Linked DNA regions of Homo sapiens. The protein of the gene in region 1 purifies or fractionates together with the protein of each later gene. This does not show direct contact. Each region holds a gene or a part of one and is shown on either strand. Other genes may lie near its edges.

The links. The genes of interacting proteins can lie anywhere in the genome.
Region 2: the proteins of TENT4A (region 1) and LRP6 purify together in Homo sapiens (affinity purification with mass spectrometry; 2 studies listed by BioGRID and IntAct, with this or other methods). This does not show direct contact.

The regions. Positions count from the first base shown.
Region 1 is NC_000005.10:6,712,013-6,716,231, forward strand, and holds the start of TENT4A (terminal nucleotidyltransferase 4A), read left to right. Parts: upstream 1-1,419; 5' UTR 1,420-1,971; coding exon 1,972-2,687; intron 2,688-2,736; exon of another isoform or gene 2,737-3,107; intron 3,108-3,129; exon of another isoform or gene 3,130-4,219. UniProt on the Homo sapiens protein: Terminal nucleotidyltransferase that catalyzes preferentially the transfer of ATP and GTP on RNA 3' poly(A) tail creating a heterogeneous 3' poly(A) tail leading to mRNAs stabilization by protecting mRNAs from active deadenylation.
Region 2 is NC_000012.12:12,257,045-12,260,544, reverse strand, and holds part of LRP6 (low-density lipoprotein receptor-related protein 6 isoform b precursor), read left to right. Parts: intron 1-3,500. UniProt on the Homo sapiens protein: Component of the Wnt-Fzd-LRP5-LRP6 complex that triggers beta-catenin signaling through inducing aggregation of receptor-ligand complexes into ribosome-sized signalosomes.

The DNA.
Region 1 (4,219 bases):
TCCACGTGTACAATATGAAGGTATTTGAAAACGTCTGAAACATTCATTTTCATTACTAACCACCACCACTTGCCCCAAAGCCTTTGTATGCAACACACGGACCTTTCCTGTTGGGGCGATGTTTGAAGGGTCAAGTGCTTAGTAATGTCTACTCATCTGTGCTGGAGACGAGGGGGTAGCATTTACAACACGCCTGTACGAAGGCCAGGTCCCGTTCTACTTAAAAGGCTTGGAGCCCGGGCGCCACTGGGCTAAGGCAGCTTCAGGGCCCTGGCCCGGGAGTGCATTTGCGGGGACTCCGCCTGAAGACAGGGCGGCAGCCGCGGGGCCTCACGTCGCCCAGGCTCGCGGGGCACCGCGATGATCAACGACACTGGCGTTTGCTTTGGACCTCACAGGATGTGTGGTTGGCGCTGTATTCCAAACAGTGCCACTGTCAACCCGGCTTCCATCGCGCTCGGGACACCGGGATGGCAAACGGCAGGCTGTGGATGGCGGGCGGTTTCCCACTGACTCCTGCCCGCTCGGTGCAGCTGGAAAAACCGAAGCCGGGGGCCGGACGCGCCGCCCACCAGCCGTTCCTCGGCTAGCACTGCCCATTTTGCCCAGGGAATTAACTTGGAAGTTTTCACTTCACTTTTCGCATAGAAAATCATTTTAAAAAGCAAACCAAACGCCTGTAAGCAGACCCGCTAGGGAGCAGGACTCTGCCGCGTGTCCTTCCCGGCTCCGGAGCGGCGGAGCCAGCCACCCGGCACGGCACGCTGGCCGCTCACCCCGCGAGGTGCAGGGAGCACGTGGGCCGACGCGCGGACCCCAGAGAGCGCAGCGTGACCTGCTGCACGGACCCTCGGATGAGAGACCTGGGGCGGGATCTGCGACCGGGGCCCGCCCTTACGTCAGGAGGGAGGGCCGGCCGGCGGGGGAAGCGCCTGCGGTGGCGTCCGCTGCCCCCGCCCGGCTGCTCGGAAACTTCCACCGGCGGCGGTGACGGCCACGCTGCCCTGCGCACGCGCAGCGCGGCTCAGGCGGCAGCCCGGTGACACCGGCCCTAGCGCGCATGTCTGCACGCCGGGGTCTGCGCGCCGCGGCGGGCCGAGGGCGGCGTGCGGGCCTTCCAGCCGCTGCCTATTCCACCCAACGCCGGCCTAGTCAGTAATGGCTCAACGCCACCGCCTCTCCCTCCAGCCCCTCCCAGTCGCGTAGCTTCTGACGCCGTCCTCACCCCGCCCGCGGCCGACGGGGCCCCAACGCGCAGGCGCGGTAACCACGGCGGCAGTGTCTAGTGAGGATTTGAAATCGGTCGCGCGTGCGCACCGGCGACACGGCCCGGCGACCGAGGCCGCGCTTCCTCCTGCCGCCCCCGTCCCCGCCCCCTCCCCCGCCCCTCATTGGAGCGGACGCGGCGGCGGCCCCCTCCTTCCCCCGCGCTGTCGCCGCCGAGAGTGTCTTTTCACCGCCGCCGCCGCCGCCGCCGCAGGAGCGCCGAGCCAGCGGCGCGAGCGTGACTGAGGGCTAGCCGCACGGGCGGCGGCGCCTCCCGCGGGTCCTTCAGCCGCTCGGCGCCTGGGCCCGCCCCCTCGGCCCCGCCGCCCGCCCTTCTCCGATGGCCTCTCCCCGCGGCCCGAGTGGAACGCCGCCGCCGCCGCGGCCCCCGCGCCCGCCCCGCGCCGCGTGAAGCGGGAGCCCGGAGACCGCAGCCGCCCGCTGGGACGCGCCAAGCGCCGGAGCCGCCCGCCGCGGCCTGCCGGGGCCCATCACCGCCGCCGCCGCCCCACGCCGGAGCCCGACGGGAGCGCGGCTAGAGCAGGAGGCCGGGGCTCGGCCCGCCCGCCGCCGCCGCCGCCGCCGCCGCCACCGGCCCAGGCCCGTCCGTCCGTCCGTGCGCGCGCGGCCGGGCCTCGGGGCGCGGCGGGGGCGGGGCCGCGTCGGGGCGGGCGGGCGCGCGGGCCCCGCGGGGGCGGCGCGTGGATGGATCCGCGCGTGGCCTGGATCCAGCCCGAGCAGAAGGGGCCGGCCAATGCCCTGTGGATGCAGATCTGGGAGACCTCGCAGGGCGTGGGCCGCGGCGGCTCGGGCTTCGCGTCCTATTTCTGCCTCAACTCGCCGGCGCTGGACACGGCGGCCGCGGCGGGGGCGGCCGGGCGGGGCAGTGGCGGCCTGGGCCCCGCGCTGCCCGCCGCGTCGCCCCCGCCGCCCGGCCCCACCGCGCCCGCCGCGCTGCCCCCCGCGCTGCTGACGGCGCTGGGGCCCGCGGCCGAGGGCGCGCGGCGCTTGCACAAGTCGCCGTCGCTGTCGTCCTCGTCGTCGTCCTCCTCGTCCAACGCGGAGTCGGGCACCGAGAGCCCCGGCTGCTCGTCGTCGTCCTCCAGCAGCGCCTCGCTGGGCCGGCCGGGCGGCGGCCGCGGCGGCGCCTTCTTCAACTTCGCCGACGGCGCGCCCAGCGCCCCTGGCACAGCCAACGGGCACCCCGGGCCGCGCGGCCCCGCGCCCGCCGGCTCCCCGTCGCAGCACCAGTTCCACCCGGGTCGCCGGAAACGCGAGAACAAGGCCAGCACCTACGGCCTCAACTACCTGCTGTCCGGCAGCCGCGCGGCCGCTCTCAGCGGAGGGGGCGGCCCCGGGGCCCAGGCGCCGCGGCCCGGCACCCCGTGGAAGAGCCGCGCGTACAGCCCGGGCATCCAGGGGTGAGTGCGCGGGGAGGCCGCGGGGGCGGGGGCGGGGCCCATGGTCCTGGCCGGCGCCCGCGGTGCAGACACCCGTCCCAGGCGCCCGGGCTTTTGGAGGATGGATGTTGAAGGCTAAGGCCAAGGCCCGACTCTGCACTGAAAGTTTTTTTTTTAAACATCAGACTCATTTATCGTGGAGTGACTTGCCCAGATCCTACAAGTAACAGTCCAAGAAAAGGGGCTGCTGGGTAGGACCTGCAGGTATTTGTCTTTTTTACTCTTGAGATTGGAACGGGAAATCGACTCTCTACCCCTCCACCCCGCCTCCGGGCAAGTGAGGAACCCCTTGTCAAAGTGGGGCGTAGATAAGTGTGGAGTTTCACGTAAGTTAAGTTGCAGAATAATTTAGCATTGCCAGGAACTCGAATCACGTCGAAGGTAAATATTAACCTTTTTAATTTCATTTTTTAAAAAAATTTAACTGTCAACTTAGAGGTGATTCATTTTTTGGGGGGTGTTGTGTCCTTTAATTTTGTGCTGCAATTACCATAAGCATCGCCTATGGTTTATAAACATTGGCTTAATTCAAAGAAAAAACCAGATTTGTCATATATGTCTATTCTTTGGAAGGTGCCATTTTTATTTTAAATATTTCTACATCCGCCTAGAGGGAATTAGAGGCTCTACTTAAATTTAGTGCACTTACAGACGGCAAGGAATGAAACGAAAGGTGGTGTGTGTTTCGGGGTTGGAATTGTCCCAGGTGAGGCTGTTCAGGTGTGATGCTGTTGACGCAGCCCCTTTGCCATTTTGGGCTTTTCTGAGCGTCTGGAAGCAATTTATGTGTAGGTTGTATGTCAGTATTTTAAGACTTAAATGATAATTTTTCCTTGCACAATTTTTCCCCCCAATTTAAAAAACAATTAAGGATTTGCTGGGGTATGAGGGTTGTTGCATGCAGTAGAGTCCTACAAATAACCACAATTGCTAGGTGTTGGGAGTTCTTATAGTAAACTTTTGCTTGTAACTCTTTTTCTCATTTGAAGTATGTTGGGAAACACGAGTTGATACTTCTTTAAAGCGTGTGATACACTGTAATAGCTGCATGTTCTGTAACTTATTTCACCTGGCTTGGGCTACAAGCGATACCTTCTAAATTTCCCGAAGTGTAAACATGCAGTGCAGACGCCGGCAGGAGCGCAGACTCCTCTTCTCTCCCTCCAGTTCTTACCTGTAGAACTTTCTGAGAGCAGGTGGTTGGGAGCAGTTTCTTCTTGATGAATAGCAATATATACCTAAGGGCTCGCTTGGGGAGGACCTTTAGGTTTCCAGCCTGTTATGTAACTGGAATGGACTCCGTTTCTCTTAGCACTAGAAAAAACAGGAAGACACGTGGTCTCTGCCAGTCTTGGGTTGTACCTCTGCTCTTAGAAAGTGGTAGCGCATCAGGTCCCATGCACCTCACTTGGGCTCCCCGAGCTGTTTCCTCCAGGTAACTCTAGTCAGGCTCAGTAGGTGGTGTTGCTTTTGTTAGTGAATGAGCCCACTAG
Region 2 (3,500 bases), on another chromosome or scaffold:
GCACTGTTTTTGGCAGTTGATAGTTTTAGGCCAGTGGTTTTGGAATTTTTTTTGATTCTTCTGCAACTGGAATAAAAGCTCCATAAAATACTTTTACTTATGGAAATTTCTGTTTTGTTTGATATAAAACGGAATGACACTAAATTTTTTTTCTTTTTTTTTTTTTTGAGACGGAGTCTTGCTCAGTCGCCCAGGCTGGAGTGCAGTGGCGTAATCTCGGCTCACTGCAAGCTCCGCCCCCCGGGTTCACGCCATTCTCCTGCCTCAGCCTCCCGAGTAGCTGGGACTGCAGGCCCCGCCAACACGCCCGGCTAATTTTTTTTGTATTTTAGTGGAGACGGGGTTTCACCATGTTAGCCAGGTTGGTCTCCATCTCCTGACCTGGTGATCCAGCCGCCTCGGCCTCCCAAAGTGCTGGGATTACAGGCGTGAACCACCGCGCCTGGCCTAAATTTATTTCTAAAGGATTGCAGCCATAACTATTTTAGGTGATGATTATTATAAATAAGCTACAGAACAGACAGTTCAAATGATTGTGATACTTATTAAAGAGTTAAGCATGGGCAAAATAATTTTATCAAGACATCTAATTGAGAAATTGCATTATTTGTTTACAACAATTATTCAGTTGGTGGATTTCTTTCTGCAGGATGGCTGAATGCTATACTGAGTTTCTGCATTGCATGTTTTCACTTCGGATAAGGGTGTTTATCTTCTATAAAGTAAGCCTCACTTCAGTGAATAAAACACTGTTTTATATGAGTAACTTTGAAATTTAGTCAAATATACAGACTAGGCAATCTAAGAACAGGCTGTTTGCTCTTAAAATTATTTATTTTAAAATACAATTTGTCAGTACATAAATGCAAGGAAACAAGGTTATTTGGTATTATTAACATATGCTTTTGTTTCTCAAGCTGTTCGTGTTTGCGGCAGTGAGTATTCTCACTAAAGGTTCAAGCTGTTCGGGTGTGAGGCTAGAAACTTTTAAAATGTGCTTGGACTCTTCGGTGAAAATTATTGATACTTTGATGCTGTGATCCTTTTAGCGGTATCATAACTTGTAGTTTCTGTAATATCTTGCTTGGAAGGACCTTGTATAAGTGCTTAAATATTTTGGAACTAATTTCAGGAGGAGATTGGGGATGCAAAATGAAATTATATTTTTAGGCAGAAAACTACATTAAGTTATGTAAGTTATTAACACCAGGCCTAAAGTTATTGATGAGACTCTCAATAAAAATAACATGACCAGCAGTAGTCTTTTTTTTTTTTTTTTTTTGAGATGGAGTCTCGCTCTGTCACCCAGGCTGGAGTGCCGTGCCATGATCTTGGCTCACTGTGACATCTGCCTCCTGGGTTCAAGTGATTCTCCTGTCTCAGCCTCCCAAGTAGCTGGGATTAGTAGGCGCCCACTATCATGCCTACCTAATTTTTGTGTTTTTAGTAGAGATGGGGTTTCACCATGTTGGCCAGGCTGGTCTCGAACTCCTGACCTCAGGTGGTCCACCCGCTTTGGCCTTCCAAAGTGCTGGGCTTACAGGCGTGAGCCTGCTGCACACAGCTGTCATTTTTTTTTTCCCAAGAAAATAGTCACCCAAATATTGGAAACCTACCTTTATCAAATTATGTATGTTTAACCAGGAGGCTATTTTCTCTAATGGTCTTAGTCATTGTTTTATCACTACAAGACCCAAACTACAAGTAAAGGACTGCAAGGGATAGGAGTCTTCCTCACTAATGATTAGCTTTATTGGTACGTATAATTTAAGTACTGTATATCCATATATCCAGTTTAAAGATACTATGTTTTGCAAGTCTGAGAAAGGTGACGAGTGAACTTCATTACCATGAATTCTTAGCTACACATTATATTGTCTTTATTTGTAACCTTCTAGATTTATGCTAATGCAGAAATAGCTCTTTGATGAAAAGTTTTTGAAGAGTAGACCTTTTTCCCCTTTATATGCACCATGTACCAGAGGTTTGCACATATTGAGCACTGTAAATTTTACATTTAAAGTAATATAAAAAGATGTGAATTTTTATGACATTTATTTGGAATGCCATTTTGTGTTTTGACTCAATCGTTCATTAGCTATAGTTAAATTATAAATTTGTAACGATTACAAAGATTTCTTAGTCTGGGTCATGGTGGCTCACACCTGTAATCCCATCTCTTTAGGAGGCCAAGGCGAGAGGATCACTTGAGGTCAGGAGTTCAAGACCAGCCTGGGAAACATCTATAAAAAATTAAAAAATTATCTGGTCACGATGGCACATGCCTGTAGTTTCAGCTGCTTAGAAGGCTGAGGCAGGAGGATCACTTGAGCCCAGGAACTCAAGGCTACAGTGAGCCATGATCATGCCACTGCACTCCATATCACAGACAAAACCCTGTCTTTCAAAATAAATAAATAAAGATTTCTTAGCATAGATTAGATATGTTAAATAGACTACTAAAAAATCAGCATATTCATATCTGAGATTGAATTCAAGGTGTGGACTATGTAACGTGTTTTCTGGTTTTAGGATATAACTATTGCACTGATATAATTAGTTTTTTTTTTTTTTTTGAGACAGGGTCTCACTGTGTTTCCTAGGCTGGAGTGTGGTGTGATGCTATCATGGCTCACTGCAGCCTGGACCTCCTGGTCTCAGGCGATCCTCCTGCCTCAGCTTCCAGAGTAGCTGGGACTATAGGCACGTGCTACCACGCCCGGCTCATTTTTAATTTTTTTTTTTTTTTTTTTTTTTTTTTTTTTGTAGAGACAGGGTCTTACTATGTTGCTCAGACTGGTCTCGAATTCCTGGGCTCAAGTGATCCTCCTGCCTTGGTTTCCCAAAGTGCTTGCGATTACAGGCATGAGCCACCATGCCTGGCCTCAAGTACTTTTTTCTTTCTTTCTTTTTTTTTTTTCATTAAGCCCTTTCTATCAAGTACTTTTTTTTTTTTTTTTCCTTGAGAGGGAGTCTTGCTCTGTCGCCCAGGCTGGAGTGCAGTGGCGTGATCTCGGCTCACTGCAAGCTCCGCCTCCCAGATTCATGCCATTCTCCCGCCTCAGCTTCCCAAGTAGCTGGGACTACAGGCGCCCACCACCACGCCCAGCTAATTTTTTTTGTATTTTTTTAGTAGAGACGGGGTTTTACCGTGTTAGCCAGGATGGTCTGATCTCCTGACCTCGTGATCCACCCGCCTCGGCCTCCCAAAGTGCTGGGATTACAGGCGTGAGCCACCGCACCCGGCCTGTCAAGTACTTTTTTAAACCAAGTTTTTTGGAGCTATAATTCACATACAGTAAAAATCTCCATTTTACAATGTCTAGTTCGGTGGCTTTTAGTATACTCACAGGGTTGTAAAACATCACCACTATCTCATTCCAGAACGCTTATCATCCCCTGCTCCCTCAAAACCCATACATTTCCCATTTCTCCCTTCCCTCAGCCTCTGGTAACCATGAATTTACTTTCTGTCTCTATGGATTTGCTTACTCTGAATA